Homo sapiens: one gene and its partners. The protein of the gene in region 3 binds, or shares a complex with, the protein of the main gene of each other region. Each region holds a gene or a part of one and is shown on either strand. Other genes may lie near its edges.

The links. The genes of interacting proteins can lie anywhere in the genome.
Region 1: SRRM1 (region 3) and CWC27 share a complex: the UniProt entries of both Homo sapiens proteins name them as parts of the minor spliceosome.
Region 2: SRRM1 (region 3) and SRRM2 share a complex: the UniProt entries of both Homo sapiens proteins name them as parts of the minor spliceosome.

Annotation. Positions count from the first base shown.
Region 1 is NC_000005.10:64,764,952-64,771,937, reverse strand, and holds the start of CWC27 (spliceosome-associated protein CWC27 homolog), read right to left. Parts: upstream 3,009-6,986; 5' UTR 2,792-3,008; coding exon 2,750-2,791; intron 1-2,749. Other genes in the region: protein SREK1IP1, read left to right, coding at 3,421-3,433. UniProt on the Homo sapiens protein: As part of the spliceosome, plays a role in pre-mRNA splicing. Probable inactive PPIase with no peptidyl-prolyl cis-trans isomerase activity. As a component of the minor spliceosome, involved in the splicing of U12-type introns in pre-mRNAs.
Region 2 is NC_000016.10:2,748,656-2,755,645, reverse strand, and holds the start of SRRM2 (serine/arginine repetitive matrix protein 2), read right to left. Parts: upstream 3,009-6,990; 5' UTR 2,800-3,008; intron 2,741-2,799; exon of another isoform or gene 2,590-2,740; coding exon of another isoform or gene 2,540-2,589; intron 1-2,539. UniProt on the Homo sapiens protein: Required for pre-mRNA splicing as component of the spliceosome. As a component of the minor spliceosome, involved in the splicing of U12-type introns in pre-mRNAs.
Region 3 is NC_000001.11:24,639,012-24,646,303, reverse strand, and holds the start of SRRM1 (serine/arginine repetitive matrix protein 1), read right to left. Parts: upstream 3,003-7,292; 5' UTR 2,978-3,002; coding exon 2,957-2,977; intron 2,746-2,956; exon of another isoform or gene 2,572-2,745; intron 321-2,571; coding exon 231-320; intron 1-230. UniProt on the Homo sapiens protein: Part of pre- and post-splicing multiprotein mRNP complexes. As a component of the minor spliceosome, involved in the splicing of U12-type introns in pre-mRNAs. Involved in numerous pre-mRNA processing events.

The sequences.
Region 1 (6,986 bases), on a different chromosome or scaffold from region 3:
GGTTTTTTGGCCACAGGCAACTTACACCTAGTAAAAAGAATGCATATATAATCGGGCCACTTTGCTCACCAGGGTTTCTTAATCTTTTCATTAATAAGCTACTGAATTAATAAAGAAGGTATATGGCTCCTTCCTCCTCTGGCCATACATTCTCTTTGGTCATCACTACTTTGTAGGCCTCCTTGGCTCTTTCTCTTAAAATTCCCAATTAATACCTTGATAATATCATGTTTCTTATAAACATATATGCAAATATACTTATAAAGCCATTTTGATTTTCAAGATATTTAAAAACTAAGTGTGTACAACAGGAAGACAGACCCCTATCATTTGAAAGCAACATTACACTAAGTGAAGAAGCCAGACACAATTTAGAATAAGTGATCATAATATGTGGAAATTTCATCTTCAGGGAATTACCTCTTATGCTTAAAAACTTTCTGTCAAGTACTACATTTCTTTGCCTCATCTTCAGGGGCTAGGGTTACAGCAAAACACAGAACATTTATGGACAACCAGGGACCAAGCACTGGTATCATGTATCAATTACTTCCCAAGCTGATACTAAGTTCTTTGAAGGGAGGAATTTTGTCCCATTTACTCTGAATGTCTCTGTACGCTTTCAGCACCTAATGTACCATTAGATAGTAAAGGCAATAAACATTCGTTGAACAGACTTATTACATGTGCTTCAAATTCTTCACAGACCAAATTTTTGTCCACACTCTTAACCTTACAGAACTTAGAAGCTTTAATATCTTTGATGAGCCTTATGCTGGAAAAAGTCCCAAGCTGTTTTTGGATGAAAACTTGGGCCCTTATGTTATCATTCAGCCTATTTCTGTTCAGAAGATAGTATTTATCACATTTTGTAATTAAACATTTATTTGCATGATTATTCAGTCAATGTATACTTCACTCAACTAACTCATGACAACTGAGTCAATGCTGTGTTTTCTTTCCATTGTCTCCCTAAAACCTAGCATAGAGCCTGGCAATTGATTTGCTCAATCATTATTTGTTGAATGAATAATCTATTCAGGAATGTATCCTTGTTAAAGCTTTTCATCTATATGACCATGTCAAATCTTGCTTTAGAATAAAGCAATTAAGTCTGTCCTTGACCAGCAGTATAACCTCAAACTCACTGATGCTTAATACTTCTCAAAAACTAAGAAAAATATAGTATTAATTCATCCATCCATTCATTTATTCAATACCTATCTGAACTCCTTCTATCATGTATCAAGTACTGTTCCAGATGCTTGTCTCTGCCCTTATGTTCCTTACATTCTATAGGGGGAAGGTAGGAGGAAGGATACAGTAATACTAAATAATTAATAAATACCATGAAAAAAACTAAAAAGGTTAAGGGGGCCAGAGACTGCTGGGATGCAAGGCATGATTGAAGTTTGCTATTTCATAGAAAGTAGATAAGAAAGGGCTCTTTGCTAAGGTCAACACTTGATTAGACAGAGGAACAGCAAGTGTGAAGGCCCTGTCTGGCAGGATGGTAAATCTATTCAATCTCTACCAGTGTTTATTAACTGGGGGTGATATTGCCCTCAAGAAACATTTGGAAATAGGAGGAGGTAGGTATTTTGGGTTTTCACATTGATATTAAATAAGATAGGTGAGGGGTGGGATGGACATACTAATCTACAATGCCCAGGAGAAGTTCAAACAAAGAATTGAAAGAATTGGTCTGCCCATAAAATATCCATTACATTTTTGCTGGGAATTACAGCATTTTTGGTTTCACTTTTAAATTGCTCTCATTACATTATCAAATGTCAATGAATAAAAGACTGTATAAATTATTTATGATGCAATCATGTAACAAACAGGATGGTATGTTGTGTAAATTTAGCTTATCTTAATTCAACTATATACTTCCAATCTCATTTTCTCCAATATGCTGATTCATCAAATTTCATATGTGATATAAGCTAGGTCTCAATTTAAGAATTCAGGTGACACTTATTCCACAACAGACTCTTCTGCCTTGTACAGCATACAAACATCTTGGATGGGAATTGGCATACATTAGCCATCAAATCAATCAGAGAAACCTTTCCCCATTCTAATGTGGTAATAGTCCCCATTTCCCACTTTCTCTGACTGACAGTCATCTCAGGTTTTAAAACCAGCTCAAAAGATATCTTTTCCATGAGGCTTTTCCTAACTTCCCCAGTTGTTCACTACTCAGTACCGCCATAGCAACCTGGTCTCTTCTCCACAAGCACGCTTATCAGACATACAGGCTTTTGTTTACCTGTCTGTCTCACAAACTAAACTATAAGCTTTTCCGGGAAAACAACTACCTTACCCATCCATCTTTGTATCTCCGGCGCCTAGTACAGTGCCCAGTGCCTCGCAGGCGTTCAATTAATGATTGTAGAAGAAATGGAGAATGAATGACCTTAGTTAAGCAAAGAATATATCAAACTCAAAAATGTCTGTTTAAAAACCTAAGACCCCAGAAATCGGCTGCATGAGTTGGGTTAAAGCATTAAATAGGACCGGAATGCTGGTAGGTAGAGAAATCTCCACTTGACTTCTTCAAGTACATCCTGAAAAGTACCAACATCAGTGTTTCGATGCAACATTGTCCACATGCAGGAGTAAAGACAACACTTCTCGTGGTCTCTTCCTACCACGAGATCCTGAAACCCACTCCCCACCCCAAATCCGGGAAATCTCACTTTGGGGATCCCAGGACCCCAAGTTCCCTAGATGAGGCTCTCACCTTCCCATTCGTGGGAGGCTCCTGGATGTAGATGTTGCTCATCTTGGTCAGTACAAAGGACTCTGCTCCTTACGGGGGATGAGAGCGGCCGGCCGGCCACTAAAGCTGTCCGCCTACGAGTACACTCTTCCTTAAGTCCAGTGGTGCAGGAAAGCTTCAGTTTGTCAATATCACGCAAGACAGGGACACCAAACACTACCCCTGCCCAAAGGAGCCCCTCACGGACGCCGCCATGTTGTTACCGGACCCGAGCACCGCTAACCCTGAGAAGGGTTATTCCAATGTACTCCAGGGAACGAGAAAAGTCCGTAAAGTTACCATAGCTTAATGTTATTTATGTTATTTGTATTACAATATTAGAAGGGACACTTCATAAGTGTTGGCGGTGTTTACACTACTCTCGTGTGCAGATCAAACTAACTCCCCCTCCAAAACTATCAGTAATGGTTCGGACCATGTGTCTTCTGCAATATGACTCGTCCGGAAACTGCATCCGCATCTACTGGTTCTGCCGTCGCTAGAGGCGTACAGGCCCTTCCCGACCGTAGCGAGGGTGCTGCTGCGCTGGGGGAAGGAAAACGCCGCTTTGACTGTGCCTTGTTCTCACAGCTGGCGGGAAGCAAGCGCCTTTTCGAAAGCCAGAGGCTCGAGTTACCCCTCTTACCACCGTCATGGCAGTCCCAGGTAAGGAGCAATTACAGGGCCTCTGCGTCCGAGCTCCGAAGGGAGCGCAAGGGAGGGTAGGGTAGGGTGCGGCGTGTACGGAGCAGCGCCCATGGGGATTTAGGCGGAGGCCTTAAAATTCACAGGTTTGTTTTGTTTACATGAAAAAGTTTACACTCCAAACATAAACTCTGAAGGAAAGAAAATAACTATCTTCCCCCCAGGAGCCAAGCCCCAGCTGCTTGGGATTACAGGGAAAGTGTATTGTGGAAGGGAGGGAGGAGGGAGAGACTGTAACTGTAGGCCTAAGGGGGCAAGCGGCCGAGAAAAACTACCTTAACTGTGGTATGGCTTAAAACTAAAACTTGAAGTGGGAACACTTGGCCGACCCAGGTAACCGGAGGCATCGTTTGTCTTAGAAGTCGCTAGGACCCACCGGGTGTGCGGGTTCTACTCCTAGCTCTTCCTGTTGTATGTAGCTGCTCCGTGGCCATAGATTGGTCGCTTTGTGCTTCTGGGCCTCAGTTTCCTTATAAAAAGAAGGAGCTTTGTTGAATTATATATAAGATTTCTTCTAACTCTCAAATTCTATGTCCAGAAGTTACTGACCTAAAAACGGTGAACTCTGCAGAATAATTACTTAAAAGATTTTCTCGTCCTCAACTACCAGCTTACTTGGAAGTTCTAGTAGCGGAAAGCATCTCCTCAAACCAGCTTTGCCACTGCAGAACACTGATTGCAGGAGACATTTTCAGAAATACACACTTCTCCACCCCACCTCCCAACTTGGAAATTCCCAGCGCACTTTAGTAATAGAAAAGATTCTATTCTATTAGAATAGAATACTATGAATTGCTATAGAATTACTATGAACTATAGAATTACTATGGTTCAGAACCCTAACTTTGTTTAAACCTGCACTTCCCAGTATTATTTGACCAGGTTCTTTATTCTGTGGCAGCCTTTTTGAACCTCCTTCTACAGATAGCTGTTATTGGAACACTGTGCTTTTGTACTAACTGAAGTTTGCGGAGGAGTACATCTGGAGCTGTGAGAGAGGAAATGTACACTCTTTATTAAGCCTACTGTGTGCCAGGCACTGGTACTGGGCATTGGAAATACAGTGGTGAGCAAGGTAGACATGGTTACGCTTCACACAGAACTTAGAATTTAGCAGTGAAGAGAGAGAAATTTACAGAAAGTGGGACAAGTGCCATGGCAAGGAAAATACAAGACCTTAGCACAAAGTAAGGGCACCAAACACATACAGGATGGGCAGAAGGACTTTCCAAAGGAGGTAGCACTTAGGAGGAGATCTGAATTGTAGGAGGGGTGGCTTGAAGGGAGAGGAGACTGCAGTCGGAGGAACTGGATACGTAAAGGAAGAGGAAATATGTGAAAAGAGGAAATGAAAGATGTTTTCTATGGATGGAACTCAAATACAGATGGGAGATAAGTGAGAAATTAAGTACAGAGGTAGTAGCTGTAGCTAATATTGACTAATATTTATGTGTCAAATATGTCAGAATGAAAGATGTTTTCTGTGGATAGAACTCAAATACAAATGGGAGGTAAGTGAGAAATTAAGTAGATAGTAACTGTAGCTAATATTGACTAATATTTATAAGTCAAATATGTCAGATACTATATCAAACATTGTATTCTATCTCATTTAATATTCACAACTGCACTGTGAAATGAGTATTAATATTCCCATTTTACAGATGAGGACACTGAGGGACAAAGAAATCAAGTAATTTGCCTATTATGAGACAGCTGGAAAGCAAGAAGTCAGTCTGGTTCCTCTAGACTGTGTACTTCATTCATTTTGCCATCGTATAGGATAACTTACAAGGTAGTTTCCAGCTCTTTAAGGACCTGTAGGCCATGACAAGAGGTTTGGCATTATCCTACAGATGGCAGGAAGCCATTTAAGGATTTTAAAGCAGATTCACATTTTGGAAAGATAATTCTGGCTAGAAAGTAGATTGGAGACAAAGTTTACCAGTTAGGAGTAATTCTGGTGAGTTATAATGATGTGTGGCTGAGATGTGGTCTCAATAGGTAAGGAGAGAAGTGGATAAATTGAAGATACATTTTTGGTGGTAGAGTCACTAGGAGTTGGTGATTGATTCAGTGTGGGTAGGTAAAAGAGGAAATGAGGTTTACCTGGGTTTTACTGTTAAGCAATTGGGTGGGGCTGTTTACTGACATGACAACACCTCACAAGGGGCAGGGGTTAAGGGGATGATGATGACATCCAGTCTGGGGCTTGTTGTGTTGAGGTTAGTCAGACATAGGAATGCAAATAGTTAATAGTAAGAGATATAATTTGTAGCTTAGGAAAGAAGTCAGAGTCAAAGACAATGATTTGGGTGTTACCCACACACATAATAGGAGGTAAGGCTATGGGAGTGGAGCACTCTGCTTAGATGGTGTGTAGAATGTGAAGGGAAGGTCTGTGGCTGAAGCCTGGTCAACATCTAAGAGGCCAGCAGCGAAAGATAAACCTACACAGTAGATTGCCTAGGCATCCTGATAGGCCGAGTCAGCTCTAGTGATCTTTATACCACACAGCTGCACCCAAAGTTGACCTGTTATCACTGCTCATTTCATTACTTGAGCAAGCCTTTTGGGCACCTGTGTGATATGGGCACACTGGAGGACACAGTGTCATAGTCTGTGCCCTCATAAAACTTTAAGCAGTACATGAAAATGTGCTACTTAAGAAAGGGGACAAAAGTGATTTTTTAAGGCCTCATTAAAATTCTCTTAAACTTAGACCAGTGTTATAGATATGTTAACCTTCTTTCAATTCAAAATAGTGCTTCAAAGTATAATAATGTTAAATTGTGCCATTAAGCTAGATGGCAAGCTATAAACTGTTTAAACCCAGCAATAATTGAGATAATAGGTGTGACAGTGCTGTAAAAGTACAATGCAAGTGTCATTAGAAAATACAGATACAGAAAATCGTAAGATAATTTCTTAGATGATCGATCCAGACAGGGTATTAAAGGAAAATAGGGCTAATCTAAACTTTTCAAGGTTATCATCAAGGAGGACAAGTATTATGTTAGGCTCTTTAATTTTAGGTTTAATGGATTCAGTTTGGCATTTCTTGGGGTGGTCCTGCTAGTGATTATGACAAGGTATGATTATAAAGTAACAAGGCTGCTTTCTGCAAACCACACATAAAAATCAGCCTTGTCTGTTTTATGATCATGTGCTTCACCCGTGTTTCCATAGCATTGTGTATAAGCGTATACCATTATGTAGGTAATGCAATGAAATGTAGGCATTTAGGAAAATCTTACTCTTAGTTGTTATTATAGAAATAATATTTGATCACAGGTTTCAGTGAAATTTACTTTCTTTGAAAAAACTGCTTTTCCCATTCACAGTTGTTGAAATTACCTCCAACATTCATGTCAGTGATTCACCACTCTCCATGAAGAGCTGAACTGGCACAAGTGGCAACGTATGTTACTGATGTAATTGGCACAAAACTGTTTTCTTATTATCTCCTTCACTGAAGCCCTATAGCCAAGGTAGGGAATTTTTCTGTGGCCAA
Region 2 (6,990 bases), on a different chromosome or scaffold from region 3:
AAGGGCCATTTCCTTGATTCCAAATATTTAAAGATCCTATCAACTATCCTGATATTTTATTCCTTCAATTTCCTTCCTCTCAATAGGATTTACAACAATTTGCAGTTCCTCCCTGTCTTGCCAGCTGTCAAATATTACCTGTTTTCAACTCTGCTCTATTTAAACACATCAAACCAGCCTCCTCTGTTCCAACCGTTCCCATACCTTCTCCATATACCTTGCCCTAAATCTATGTAGAAACCCTCTCTACACCCCACTTTCATTAATGTCCAACCGTTGGCTTTCCCCACCAATCCCCTGGATAGCACTTCCTAGTTTTTCTCTCTCAGCCCTGCCTCTTCCTTCTCTCCTGTGTTAACCCCATGCCTCCTCCCAGGTTCTAGCCTTTCAACTTGTCCCAACCCTAACGTGATTCTGAAAAATTCTCAAGTCCCAGCTTTCCTGGTTAGATTCCTTGGCTACACATACTCTATTCCTTTCTCCTATTACATATACTCTCTTTCTCACCCTCATCCTCTCCAAGATAGTTTCCTAGAACATGCATATATGAGAAAATACTACTAAGAAAAAACCCTAAGGAATACGTAAAGCGGAGAGAGTAATCAAAGATGTAAAAGAACTGGATAGAAGGGAAGGATGCATTTAGAAAATTCCAGAATGAAGAAGCATCATACAAATGTTTGGAAAAATATACTAGCGCATGCGCCTAAGGATGGGTCCCTACCCAAGCCCAGTAGCAGACCCAATATTGAAAGCAGAAGGTGACAGAAGAGGCTAAACCTGGATAAGGCAAGCAGAAATCCAGGAAAAAATGAAAAACTGTATGGCTCAAAAAATCAATTTCTCTACACCCCAATCCTCATTTTCATCTTCTAGTACCAATCCTCCTCACGGTTTAAAACTAGGTCCTTCTTCGCCTCTCCCCTACCCCACTTAATTTCTGCTTCCCCTGCAGCATGTTTTTGACCTGCACTTAATTCTTCAGCTTAACCATTCACCCACACTTCCATACCACCTCACACAAAAATCCCCCCACTCCTTAAGAAAGGAAAACCAGGCCGGGTACGGTGGCTCACGCCTGTAACACCTGCACTTTGGGAGGCCGAGGTGGGCGGATCACCAGATCAGGAGATTGACACCAGCCTGGCCAACACGGTGAAACTCCATCTCTACCAAAAATACAAAAATTAGCTGGGCGGCGGCGATTGCCTGTAATCTCAGCAACTCCAGAGGCTGAAGCAGGAGAATCGCTTGAACCCGGGAGGCGGAAGGTTGCAGTGAGCCGAGATCGCGCCACTGCACTCCGGCCTGCCAACAGAGCTAGACTCCGTCTCGGAAAAAAAAAAAAAAGAAAAACCAGTAGGTGCTAAGCAAAGGATATTAGGTCACAATGTTTCGGAGAACTTTTAGGGAATGAGCCACCTAGTCCACCCCACAAAAAAAGACGACGACCCCACGGCATCTAAGGGGTGTGTTAAGACACAGAAAGTAGGAAGATCAACACCACACACAAATCACCAAACCAAACGATATTACAAAACTCTTAAAGTGGGGGCCATAGACAGTGGATATGCAAAAGTTACCCAAGTTAAAAGCAGAAAGTAAAAAGTACAAAGGAAGACAAAAACACCCTTTTCTGTTGGGAAATTATCCGAGTGGTAAGCTAACAATGAAGTAGAAAGATATATTTGAATTCAACAGTAAAATATGCAAAAAAGAAAACGGTACCAAAAGGGGAGAAAAAGGGGAGACAAGGGTTGTCGAAAAAAATGGACATCAGCAAGCACAGCCAGCTCAGCACCGGGGCGCTCCAGAGCGGCTGAGTGGACACAAAGAACCCAGAAAGCTAAAATAGTAGCTTTAGAAGAGCCCTAAGCCCACGCACTTAGGATGAAAGACAACACAACACTCTGAAATTCTGATCCAGATTCGTCCTAACTGAAGCCGAGTGGAAACCAAGCTTCAGAAGAGCTGTGTGCCAAAGAACGCCTGAAACCAACCAGAAAACTTATATATGAGTCTGGCGTTTTCTTCCCAACGAAGGTCTCCAAAAGCCTCCTTAGTTTGAACACGAATTCTCGGGAGACGTTGAAAAAGTGTAAAAAGGGAACGCACGGTCTACCTTACAAATGTAAACTGAACACGTTCACTTTCTTCACAGTTTTTAAGATTTGGGGTTTCTCCCCGCCACTAACAACTCAAAGGCTGATAGCCGGGAATCCTAAACCATTTAAATCCGGCCCACGAAGTTCAAGGCCCTCCCCGCAGCGCCGGGGGCCTATTTTCGGCCTTGCGGAATGGGGGAGGGGGCTGCGCGGCGTCCCGCAGTCTGGGAGGCCCCCGACACGGGCAGCCCAACGCCGAAGAGAAGCCCGAGGAAAGGAGATCTGGAACCGGGGGCAAGGGTCCAGGAGCAAGCCCCCCGCCGCCGCCCCTTCCCCGCCACTTAAGGGCCGAAAACGGCAGCTGCAGGAAGGCCACCTCGGCGGCACATGTTGGGGGGAGGAGTGAAGCCGAGGCGCGCGCCCTCCCCCCTCACCAAGGGCGCTCGCGAACCCGAGTACAGGCGGCTGCGAACGCCGTTGTCATGGGGGAGGGGCGGGGGGGGGTGAAGCCCGCGCGCGACAGGAACGGCGGGAAGGGGGAAGGGAGGCGAGGGCGTCCGCGCCAGCGAAGGGCGTCGAGCGCGCGTGCGCGCGGAGGAGCTCGGCGGCCTGGGCAGTTCTCCGCGCGCTTTGGCCTCGCGCCGGGGCCGCCGCCCCTCCCCCACCCGGCTCGCTGGCTCCCTCACCCTCTCACCCGCCGCCTCCGCCCGCCGCCTCCGAGGGGGAGAGGTCTTGCCGCCGCCGCTGCTCGAGCTCCCGAGTCCCTCGGGCCTGGGGCCGCCGCCTCGCCTCGCCGGTCCGCCCGCCTCAGCCGACGCCGACGCCTCCTCGCTTCCTCAGGGGCCGCAACGGGCTCCAACTGCGCCACTCGCACCCCGCCTGGGCCGCGCTGCACGTCAGCACGACTAACTGCGTGCGTCAGCACGCAAACGCGCGTCGCGGGGCCTGCCGGGAACTGGAGTGCGCCCCGCGGCCTTTTGCGCAGGCGCCGAAGCCACACCGCGAAGTACCGTTTTTTCAGGCACAAGGAAGGTTTCACCCCGTTGCCGAAAGACTAAGCGTCCCGTTGGCCAGTGCAACGAAGAACGGAGGAAGCGACGTAAGACACCGCGTATTCGTAGGCCTTCCGCTGCGGGGAGGAGCACAGGGCCTAGCGGCAGCAAAGCGACGCCCGAGCGCGTCTCGTCTCCCGCTGTCGATGCAGAGCATTCTGGGAGTTGTGGTTCGGGCGTGTCGCGGAGCCCGGATGTAATTTCGGCTCGGGGCGTGGCGGCCATTTTGTCTCCCCATGTTGGGAGACGATATCCCAGCCGCGGTGGTGCTGCCGCTTTCGTGTGACTTTGGGTTTCCCGAGCGAGCCCGCAGCTGCACAGCAGTCCGCCTTCCCGTACCCGAGAGAAGCCGCCTCAGACCCCAGCCAGCGGGCACCCCCGGAGGCCCCGAGCCTGGCTGCAGGCCCTAGACCTGCACCAGGGGCCCAACCAGTTACCCGTAGCATGGGCCACGTTCTCCCGCTGTAGACCGGGCTGAGGCCCGACGGCCACCCCTGGGGGAGGAGTTTTCTTAGCTTCCGGTAGGGCAGCCAGGCCGGGGTCCCACCAGACCCAGGACGTGATACCGGTGAAGCGGCACATACAGGAACAAGGCAGGAGGAAAATAATAAGCACCTTAAAGTTTCCACTTTTCGGTACCGTACTTCCTGTTAATGTTTCTAAGCCCGTGATTCTGGGCCTGATAATCAGCCAGCCGTCCTCACAGCAGAGTTGTAAGACGCTGGGCTGCTCAAGCACAAGTTCATATCTAGACCCACCGCTGGCGAGCAGCCCTGGACGTCCCGCTTAGCTGTCCTAACCAACTCAGGTGGCCTTGATCCGCAACAGGACGCGGTACCACGTAATGAACTGTCCATTTGAGTGCAAGGATTTATATTTGTTATTACGATTTGGGGGTGTTTTTAAGAGGCAGGGTTTTGCCCAGGCTGTTCTCGAATTTGGGGCTCAAGCGATCCTCCGACCTCAGCCTCCCAAGTAGCTGGGACTACCCGTGCATGACACCCTATCTGGCCCTTGTTTTTTGTTGTTGTTGTTGTTCTTTCTTTTTTCACGTGGTTTCGCACTTGTCACCCAGGCTGGAGTGCAATGGTGTGTTGTCGGCTCACTGCAACCTGTCTCTCAGGTTGAAGTGATTCTCGTGTCTCAGTCTTCCGAGTAGCTGGGATTACAGGCGTGTGCCACCACGCCTGGCTAATTTTTGTATTTTTAGTAAAGACGGGGCTTCACTATATTGGTCAGGCTGGTCTCGATTTCCTGACCTCAGGTGATCTGCCCACCTCAGCCTCCCAAAGTGCTGATATTACAGGCGTGAGCCACCACGCCCGGCCCGTATCCGGCTTTAAGATTTGTTTTTCACTTGCCCGTGGGAGGATGTACTTATCTCAGATGCTAGAGCCGGGAGACCCTCCCCCCCACCACCCCCATCTCCTGCAGGAGCTCTGATCGCAGATTGGAGTGTCTGAACTCTGCATCTATGGACGGTGCTTCTGTAAGCCGGCCGCAACTCTGGAGTGGCATAGTAAAGTGGCAAAGGCTTTGCCTTTCTGGTTAAAGACCCCAGCACCTCCAGTGAGACCCTTTCCTGTACCCCCACTGATATTCTTTATGGAATGTTTTGTGCGTGAGTCAGCACATTTAATGCCCGTGAATAGTGACAAAACATGGTTTGCAGTACCCTAATGACTGATGATGCTGAGAATCTTTTGATGTGCTTGTTGGCCGTTTGTACATCTTTGGAGAAATTTCTCTTCGTGTCTTTTGTCTATTTTATTTTTTTGGGACAGAGTCTCACTCCTAACCCCGGGCTGGAGTGCAGTGGCACGATCTCCACGCACTACAATTCTTGTACCTCAGCCTCCCAAGTAGCTGGGATTACAGGCGCACGCCACCACCCAGCTCATTTTTTTATTTTTAGTAGAGGTGGAGTTTTTTGTAGAGATTGTGTCTCCCTGTGTTGCCCAGGCTGGTCTTGAACTCCTGGGCTCAAACTGTCCTCCCCCCTTAACCTCCCAAAGTGCTGGGATTACAGGTGTGAGCCATGGCACCCAGCCCTAGAATGATTTTTTAGTTTCCCTTTAAACTTTATTTTTTTATTCACTGTAGTGTGGTGGACGGTGGTGCCCCAAAACTTCACAACCACCTAGACATTCGGAAGGTGACCTTATTTGGAATAAGAGATTTTGCAGATGTAATTGAGTTAAAGATCTGAAGATGAAATCATCATGAATTTAGGGTAGGCCGTAAATCCAATGACTGACATCCTTACAAGAAGACAAGAGGACACAGGCACCCGGGGGAAGAGGCCGTAGGAGACCCAGGCAGAGATTCGGAGCGGTGCCCATGCCAGGGATCTCCAGGAGGAGCCAGAAGCTGGGAGAGGCCCTGCAGATCCTCTCCCAGAGCCTTTGGAGGAGGCACAACCCTGTCCACACCTTGGTCTCCACTTTCTGGCCTCCAGAGCTGTAGGGGAACCCACTTCTGTGGTTTGAAGCCACCAAGTTCGTGGTGACTTATGGCAGCCCTAGGAAAGTGACATGCACAGGTAAACCACATTCACTGCAGGAAATATACAAATCAGCAAAAAGAAAAAAAGCACACAGGGGCACCACCCCCAGAGACAGCCATGGCTGACATCCTAGCGGCTGTCACCTCGGAGTGATGTTCCTAAAATGCAAACTTCTGAACTGCTTAAAACTCTTCCAGACACCCTCAGGTTGACATCACAACTCCTTTGTTGGGCCTTCCAAGGCTGGTCCTTCCCGTGGCCTCTTTTCCCTCCGCTCTGTGACAGTCCATGACGGGCACACTTGCCTATGCTTGTTCTCCCAGGCAGTGGCCTTGTGTGGGCCTTCAGCTTCCAGTTCCATGGCCTGGTGGAGGACCCTGTGGTGCAAGCCTTCCTCCAGACCCCCCTGGCCTGGGGCCCAAGACTGGGAAGCCTTTGGTGAGTGGAGCACCTCCCATTTGCACACTGGCTTCCTGGAGCTTACATTACAAATAACTAGACAATTACCAGCCAGGACAGGTGCTAGGGAGGATGGGAACAGGGTAGGGGGGTGAGGATGATGTCTGCAAAAGCATCCTGCCCTCCAGAGGGAGACCAGACCTTCAGGAAGGACAATCCCTGGGGTTAATGCCATAGCCTCCCACCTCCCAGCTGCCTGGGAGGGTTTCTCGAATTACCTTTTTATCTGGAGACCCCAGCCCCCATCCAACCCCTCCCACAGGGCTGCAAGCAGGGTCTCTTGAGAGGCCTTCTGGCTTCCAGGCCCCATGTGTGCTCCCAGCCTTCTGGGCAGGATGGACTGAGGCTGGTCCTCAGCGCAGGCATGGTGGGGCACACGGCAAGCAGAACAAGTGCCTGGGCCCTCTCTGTGCAGTACCCAGACCCCAAAAGTACTTGGCTCTGAACCTCTGAAACATGCCCTGGTTCCTGTACCCAGGACAAGCAGATATGAAACACTGGAAATGAGTGCCGGGAGGAATGGCCTTCCACGTGCAGCTGGCATGGCCCATGTCCAAGCCACTTCAGCGGCTCTTTCTGGCCTTGGTGTAGCACATCTGGTGAGGTCGATACTGTCCAGCCACCCCTTTCTTTTCTGGAGGGGGAGGAGGGATATTCTTTGTGATGTAAGGGTTTAGAGAGCTTTTAAAGCACTAATTGGGGCCAGGTGTGGTGGCTCACACCTGTAATCCCAGCACTTTGGGATGCTTGAGGCCCAGGAGTTCAAGACCAGCCCTGGGCAACATAGTGAGACTCCCCCCACCACCTCCCATTTCTGAAAAACAAACAGAGAAAAGCACTCATTTTATTTTCTTTCTTTTTTTTTTTT
Region 3 (7,292 bases):
TGCCCGCCTCGGCCTCCCAAAGTGCTGGGATTACAGGCGTGAGCCACCTCGCCCAGCCACAATCTGCTAATTCTTATATGGCTGTGCCACGTGTGGTGGCTAAAAGGTGGTTAATGTTCAATTATGTTTTTCTTAGCATTCAAGTTACAATGCATCTCCAAAACAACCCCAGAACTTGAGTCAAGTAAGTGTGCTATAAAGATGCACAACAGTCTCATCCAGAAGAATACCTTTTTTTCTAGGCATTCTGCAAATTTCAGCTGCTTCAGTAGTTTCTTCTGTTTGTTGCTGAACCGATTATCCTGTTCTGCACTTGTTCCCTGCAGGAAGAGAACCACATCTTAACTAAGGGTTCAAAGTTAAATCCTTACTTTTTATCACCTACGACCTTTATAGCCAAAATAGGGTAACCAAGTAAACACAATACCAAACTAGTTTTCATAGATGAGAAATGCATACTCCTTCCCCAATGTAGCTGATACTTGGAAAACTTGACTGGATTTTTAAATTATCAAGTATATGTTCATCATAAGTCAAACCTAAAACAACAGTATACAGCATAAAGCCAACACCTCCTCATATCCAATGTTAGATTTGATTTGTATCCTTTCACACCTTTTCCTATGCTAATAGATACGTAGGGCTTTTCTGTTTAAATGAGAACACATTGAAGTATTTGAAATTTCATTCTTTTTTGAAAGCCAGTTGCATGCTTGCAAAACTACTGTGGCAATGCATACAAACAGGGTGAAAGGAAAAAAGAACATCCCAGGACTGTGCTGTTAGTCTTCTACAACTTTTAGGAACTTGGAATGAGTGAAGAAGACAGGGTTACCTAAATAAACTCAATTTCAGCAAAGAACCTGGAAAAATGAAAGCTTACAAATACTACCTTAGATCATCGAGTGATCACTAATTATTCTTTTCATTTTGTCATTCCTACTGGCCCAATTAAACACGGAAATAACTGGCTGTGCCATCTGAAATGTACTGATTGGTTCACTGAGTTGGCCACAGTCCCCTGGAAAGCGATCAAAAAAAATTTTGTTTGAGAAGGTAAAAACTGTGCCACTACTTAGCCGTAAGATCGTAAACCAAGTTACCCAGCCTCTCTGAGGATAGTTCCTTCCCTGCTAAAATAGAGGTATAGAAACCTACTCTGCAGGGTTGCTGTGTACATACCAGAAATAACATATGTAAAGTATCTGGCATGTGGAAGAAGTTCATTGAATGGAAGATATAACTTCTATACTACCTGAAATAGTTCATCTGGTTGGCAGGGTACTAGATAATGACCCTAAAATATTTTAACTTGGATCTTAAATCCAGTTAACTCTTGTATTTAAGCAATTGTAGGCTGTGTACTAAAAACTCGCCCCTCTCCCAGACCTTTACCAATACCACAAGCAAACTTCATGTTAAAATTTGCTCATCAATCACCTTACTCTTTTATTTATTTGGACTCCTTTCCACAGAAAATATTTTGACAAAAGTCAGAAAAGGCTTTCACTTGTTTCAAAATACTACTTGCACTGCAGAAAATATTGAATATTTACTACAAAACACTTTGATGGAAATTACAAAATGGACAGTTCATAAGCAGTTTGCAAATTCGATACGCTAATCTGAAACTATCATTCCAAAATAAGTATCTTACTGTTTGCCTAAGAACAGCTGGTTGTTCTTAGGTAAAATACTTGGGGGATAACATTCTAACATGACGAAAAACTCGTTGGCATATTTAAAGCCAATTAAAGAAGGATTTCAATGTCCAATTCGGAGTGTCCAAAGATATTTTTACTAAAGTTCTGGCCCTCCTCCCTTCCAATTTTTCCTTTGAAAACACACAAACTGCAAATTACATGCTCTAAAGAGAAGAGCTAACGTGTATTTCAGAAAACGGATATATTGGCTTAGATCAACTAGTTTCTATACGACTTCATTCTGCATTAACAGTTTGCAAGCCCTGAGAGACCAATGGTGCTCAACTCTAGTCCTGTGTCCCTTCTAGATCTTGATCTAGTACTAATTTCCTACAGGAGGGGACTATGGGACACACAGGCTCCAGCACGAGCCTGATAAAGTGTGGGCCCCGAGAACCAACTACGACGGAGTAACTTCCCTGCCTGCAGGCGATGGGCAGACGACGCTGGCAGAGCCTAGGTAAGAGTTACCTTTCACCAGCGGACTCCAAGAGTAAAACACGATGGTGGCGGGTGGTGAGGGATGTGGAGGGCGGGAAGGAATTGAATCACTCCACAACCTGCCTCCATACCCGCGCATAGTTTTCGTTGCACCCTCTACCCTCACAGAACCTTAAATTCACATTGTCCCAACAAGTTATCTACGTCCCCCTCCCTGAAGGGATATCAAATTGGGCGGGAGCTCCCGCGAACCCTGACCTGGCGCCTCCACGAAGGCTTAGGACCTGGAGGGAGGACGTTGGGGGGCGGGGAGGGCGCTTTTTCAAAAAAAGCCGCTGAATGCTTCTTCCTGTTCTCCCTCCCCTAAGGTGCTCTCCCAAGATGTACCCCCAAACCATATTCTCCCTGCCCTGCCGCCACCAGTGACCTTAGGGCTTTCCTTTGGCCTCCCACTCGGGACTTCCTCCTCCGGCTCCGCTAGGCCCCAGGACCCGGCGGCACGCACGGCGCTCGGCCTGCAGGCCCCGCCAGGCAGGCGGGCAGCGAGGTACCATCCCGGCCCATTCCCGCCGCCATTTTCCGGCCACCGTCGCCGCCGCGTAGGGGGGACCATTCCGGAGGAGGAGACTGCGCAGGGGCGCACCGGTCTCCGCCGCAGCGCACGGGGGGGGGGGGGGTGCGCCGGCTCTAGGAGGAATCCTTAAGATCTCCGAAGCTCCCCTCGCTGGCCACCCTGTGCCAAGCTAAGGTCTCCTACCAGGCCTTACCGAGAAGTCCCTGGCCTCACCCCGGCGCCCGGCGCTTCTACTTACGCGGAAAAATCCCGCGTCCATCTTGCCGCCTCGCTCGGAGATCGCTCCCTATCCCAGGGTACACCGCGCCGCCGCGACGGAGGGCGGGACCGGCGGAGGGAAAGCCGAGCGCCGGGACGCAGCGCGCGTCGTTGCGCCCGCCCCCTCCGGCCGACACGAGGCCGCGCCTGCTCAGTGCGCCGAGAGCCCGCCACGCGTGCGCACGAGCGCCAGCGGGGGCGGGCTTCTGTCAGGCCCTAAACTCCCCGGTAGGTAGTGGAGGAGGCGAACCTGACGACCGCAGCCAATGGGAGCAAAAGGGAAGGCCGTCGAGTCGCCCCGCCCTGCAAGTCCTTTTGTGGCGCGTGACCATCCTTGTTCGCGCAATGTGACGTGACCCATCCTTCGACCCGTAGTGGAAGAGGCTTGGCGTCCTGGAGTTCCATGAAGCGATTGAAGAGAAAGGCTGTTACCTCAGAGTGACGCGGGCGAGGCGGCCCGTGCGCCGACGAGAGGCCTGCGGCTTCCCTCTCGTTGTGAAAGTTGTGATTGTGTAGGTTTTACGCGTTTACCAGACGAGAGAGGATTGTCTGTAAAGCGGTCGAGCCTGGCAGCAGACATGAAATCTGCCTTGTAGCTCAGCTTGCTCAGCCTTTGGAGGAAGCTGGAAGTGTCCAGTAGATGGGTTTCGGTTTCGGCGGCCCGGTAATCACGCCGCTGGGCAGGACGCCCGCCAGAGAGCCGTGGTCCTCGGGCTCTGCCTCGGGCTCTCCCCAGCCCGGGTCTCGGACTCCGAGAAGCACCAGCTTCCTCGCAGCGCCTCGCCTGGCCGCCCTGGTGCCTCTGCTCTGGCTGCGAGGGCCTTGGGTTGGATGCGCACTGCTAGATTTTCTTATTTTGAAAATTATTGGCCGGGCGCGGTGGCTCACGCCTGTAATCCCAGCACTTTGGGAGGCCGAGGCGGGCGGATCACGAGGTCAGGAGATCGAGACCATCCTGGCTAACACGGTGAAACCCCGTCTCTACTAAAAATACAAAAAATTAGCTGGGCGTGGTGGCGGGCGTCTGTAGTCCCAGCTACTCGGGAGGCTGAGGCAGGAGAATGGCATTAACCCGGGAGGTGGAGCTTGCAGTGAGCCGAGATCACGCCACTGCACTCCAGCCTGGGTGACAGAGCGAGACTGTCTCAAAAAAAAAAGTTATTTTTATCTAATAAAGCAGAGATGGGGGTCTCGCTCTGTTGCTGGTCTCGAACTCCTGGCCTCCCAAAGTGCAGGGACTTCAGGCCTGAGCCACCGCGCCCGGCCCCACTCTGCCAGCTTTTTCGCAAGCGCTTCTCGCCCTTCTCGCTTCCCTTTCTCGGAGGGAAAGCCGGCGTCCCTTTCTCAGAAAGGCCTCCTCCGGCCATCTTTTGCATCGTTCCCGCCCCCACACACACTCTCGCCTCCCTTTTCTCTTTTTTTCCATGGCACTTAGCCCACCTGAAAGTATGTGTGTGTTTGCTCTCGTGGCTGGAGACACTAGCTGTGTGCTGGAGACATCCCTGCATCTCCAGCTCAGACTTCTCTCTTGACCGTCCCACGTGCCCCAAGTTGAAATCCTGATTCCTTCGCCCTCCATCCACCAAAACCACAAACCACCTGCCCTTCCCAGGGTCTTCCCTGGCTCCCGCTGACCGCAGTGGCTTTCCTTTGGTGTAGGACGCAAGCGTGTGTTACTCTTGACTCCTTTCCTTTACCTCGGCTTTCAAACCATCAAGAAACCCTCCCTGCTGTCATCGTGGTTCAGGGCACCATCGTCTCTTCCCTGAACTGCGCTAACCCCCTAAGTGGTCTTCCTGCTTCTACCCTGGCCACTCAGCATCTACTCTAAGTGTAGCCGGCAGGGTAGTTCTGTTAGAAAACCTTAATCAGACACTTTTCTCAAAACCTTCCAGCAGCCTCTCATTTTTGTTAGAACAAAAGCCAAAATCCTACCTGATGCACGCTATTTCGTCTTTGATGTAATCTAGAATGCTCTACTTCCAGATATCTTTTTTTTTTTTTTTTGAGACCGAGTCTCGCTCTGTCGCCCAGGCTGAAGTGCAGTGGCGCGATCTCGGCTCACTACAACCTCTGCCTCCCGGGTTCAAGCGATTCTCCTGCTTCAGCCTCCCTGGCAGCTGGGACTACAGGTGCGCACCACCACGCGCGGCTAATTATTGTATTTTTAGTAGAGATGGGGTTTTGCCATGTTGGCCAGTCTGGTCTCAAACTCCCAACCTTCACTGATCCTCCCGCCTCGGCCTCCCAAACTGCTGGGATTACAGGCATGAGCCACCACGCTGACCTACTCCTGGATATCTACTGGGCAAACTTAAAGTCCCCACTGCCCCCCCGCAGATGGGGTCTTGCTCTGTCTGCCCAGGTTGGAGTGCAGTGGCAGGATCTCGGCTCACTGCAACCTCCACCTCTCAGTTTCAAGGAATTCTCCTGCCTCAGCCTCCCAAATTGGGAGCTGGGATTACAGACGCCCGCCACCAAGTCCGGCTACTTTTTTTATCTTTAGTGGAGATGGGGTTTCACCATGTTAGCCAGGCTGGTCTGGGACTCCTGACCTCGTGATCCACCTGCCTTGGCCTCCTAAAGTGCTGGGATTATAGGCGTGAGCCACCGTGCCCGGCCTGGGCAAAGTTTTTACTTTAAAGTTTTTACTCGATGGTCACTCACTGAAGCCTAACCTGACTGCCTTGTTGGAAGTTGCTCGGATATCCTCTCTACATCCTGATGCCCGTTACTCTTTTTTTTTTTTTCATAGCTTTTATCACCTAATATGCATTTAACCTGTTTTTTTTTTTTTTTTTTTTTTTTGAGGCAAGGCCTGGCTCTGTCACCCAGGCTGGAGTGCAGTCACGTGATCTTGGCTCACTGCAGCCTCCGCCTCCTGGCTTTAAGCCATCCTCCCACCTCAACCTCTGGAGTAGCTGGGACTACAGGCCCGCACTACCATTCCCAGCTAATTTTTGTATTTTTTGTAGAGATGGGGTTTTGCCATGTTGCCCAGGCTGGTCTCGAACTCATGAGCTCAAGGGATACCTGCCTTGGCCTCCCAAAGTGCTGGGATTACAGGTGTGAGCCACTGCGCCCGGCCGTTTAACCTGTTTTTAATGTTTGTTTATTGTCTGTTCCCCACACTAGAATGTAAGTGCCCTAAAGTCAGGGCTTACTGTTTTGTTCATTCATGTGTCACTAGAAAAGTGACACATGGCATGGGTTCAATAAACATTTGTTCAGTGAATGAAGGCTTTGTCAGACGGCCAAAGACAGGGAAGTGACAGGCCTCCACAGAACAAGCCACTTGACCAGATGGGAACTATGAAATCACAACACCCCACATCTCCCTGACTATTCTCTATGGTTCTGATTAGTCATTCTGTTTTGGGCTTCCTTCACTGTCTCTGTCTGTTTGCTGTCAATCCTATAAATGTTGTTTTTTCTGGTAGTTCTGTCATTGACTACTTTTTCCCTCAACAAAGGTGCCCTCTCTGACCTCTCGGTTTTGATTACCTTTCATATTTCAAACCTGTGTATCTCAGGCACAGGCCTGCTCCAGACCTATATTTTCAACTTCCTGCTCACCTATTCACTTGGATGTCCCATAGGCACCTCACACTCAACATACCCTAAACTGAATTCATCTTCATCCACTTGCCTTCAACCTTCTGGTTTCCCATTCTCAATGAATGAGCCCACCTTTCTTTCTATCATGATTCTTCTCTCTTCCTCACACTCTACAACCAACTCTTGCCTTTTCACCTCTCTTAATAGCTTATGCCTCCCTCTCCTCATCCGTTACTTCTAAGTTGCAGCCACAATAAACTACAGATGCTTGTCTGATTATGAACAGATTTAGATTTCGAATGGCAATTTATTTGTCTATATATTGGTAAGCCTAAAATGACTAAGAGATGATTCAAATGGCACCTCTTCATCAAGCCTTTTCTGAACAACCTTCCAAAAAGGACACCCTCAATCCCCTCACTCTGTCTTACCTTTTTCTTTCTTTTCTTTTGGAGAGAGGGTCACTCTGTAACCCAAGCTGGAGTGCAGTGATGCAATCACAGCTCATTGCAGCCTCCTTAATTTCCCCAGCTCAAGCAATCTTCCTGCTTCAGCACCCTGAGTAGCTGGGACTACAGGTGTGTGCCACCACACCCAGCTAATTTTTAAATTATTTTTTAGAGACGGGGGCTTTATTGTATTGCCCAGGCTGGTCATAAACTCCTGGGCTCAAGTGAGCCTTCCACCTCAGCCTCCGAAAGTGCTGGGGTTATAGTCGTGAGCCACCATGCCTGGCCTATTTTTCTTTTCTTTCTTTC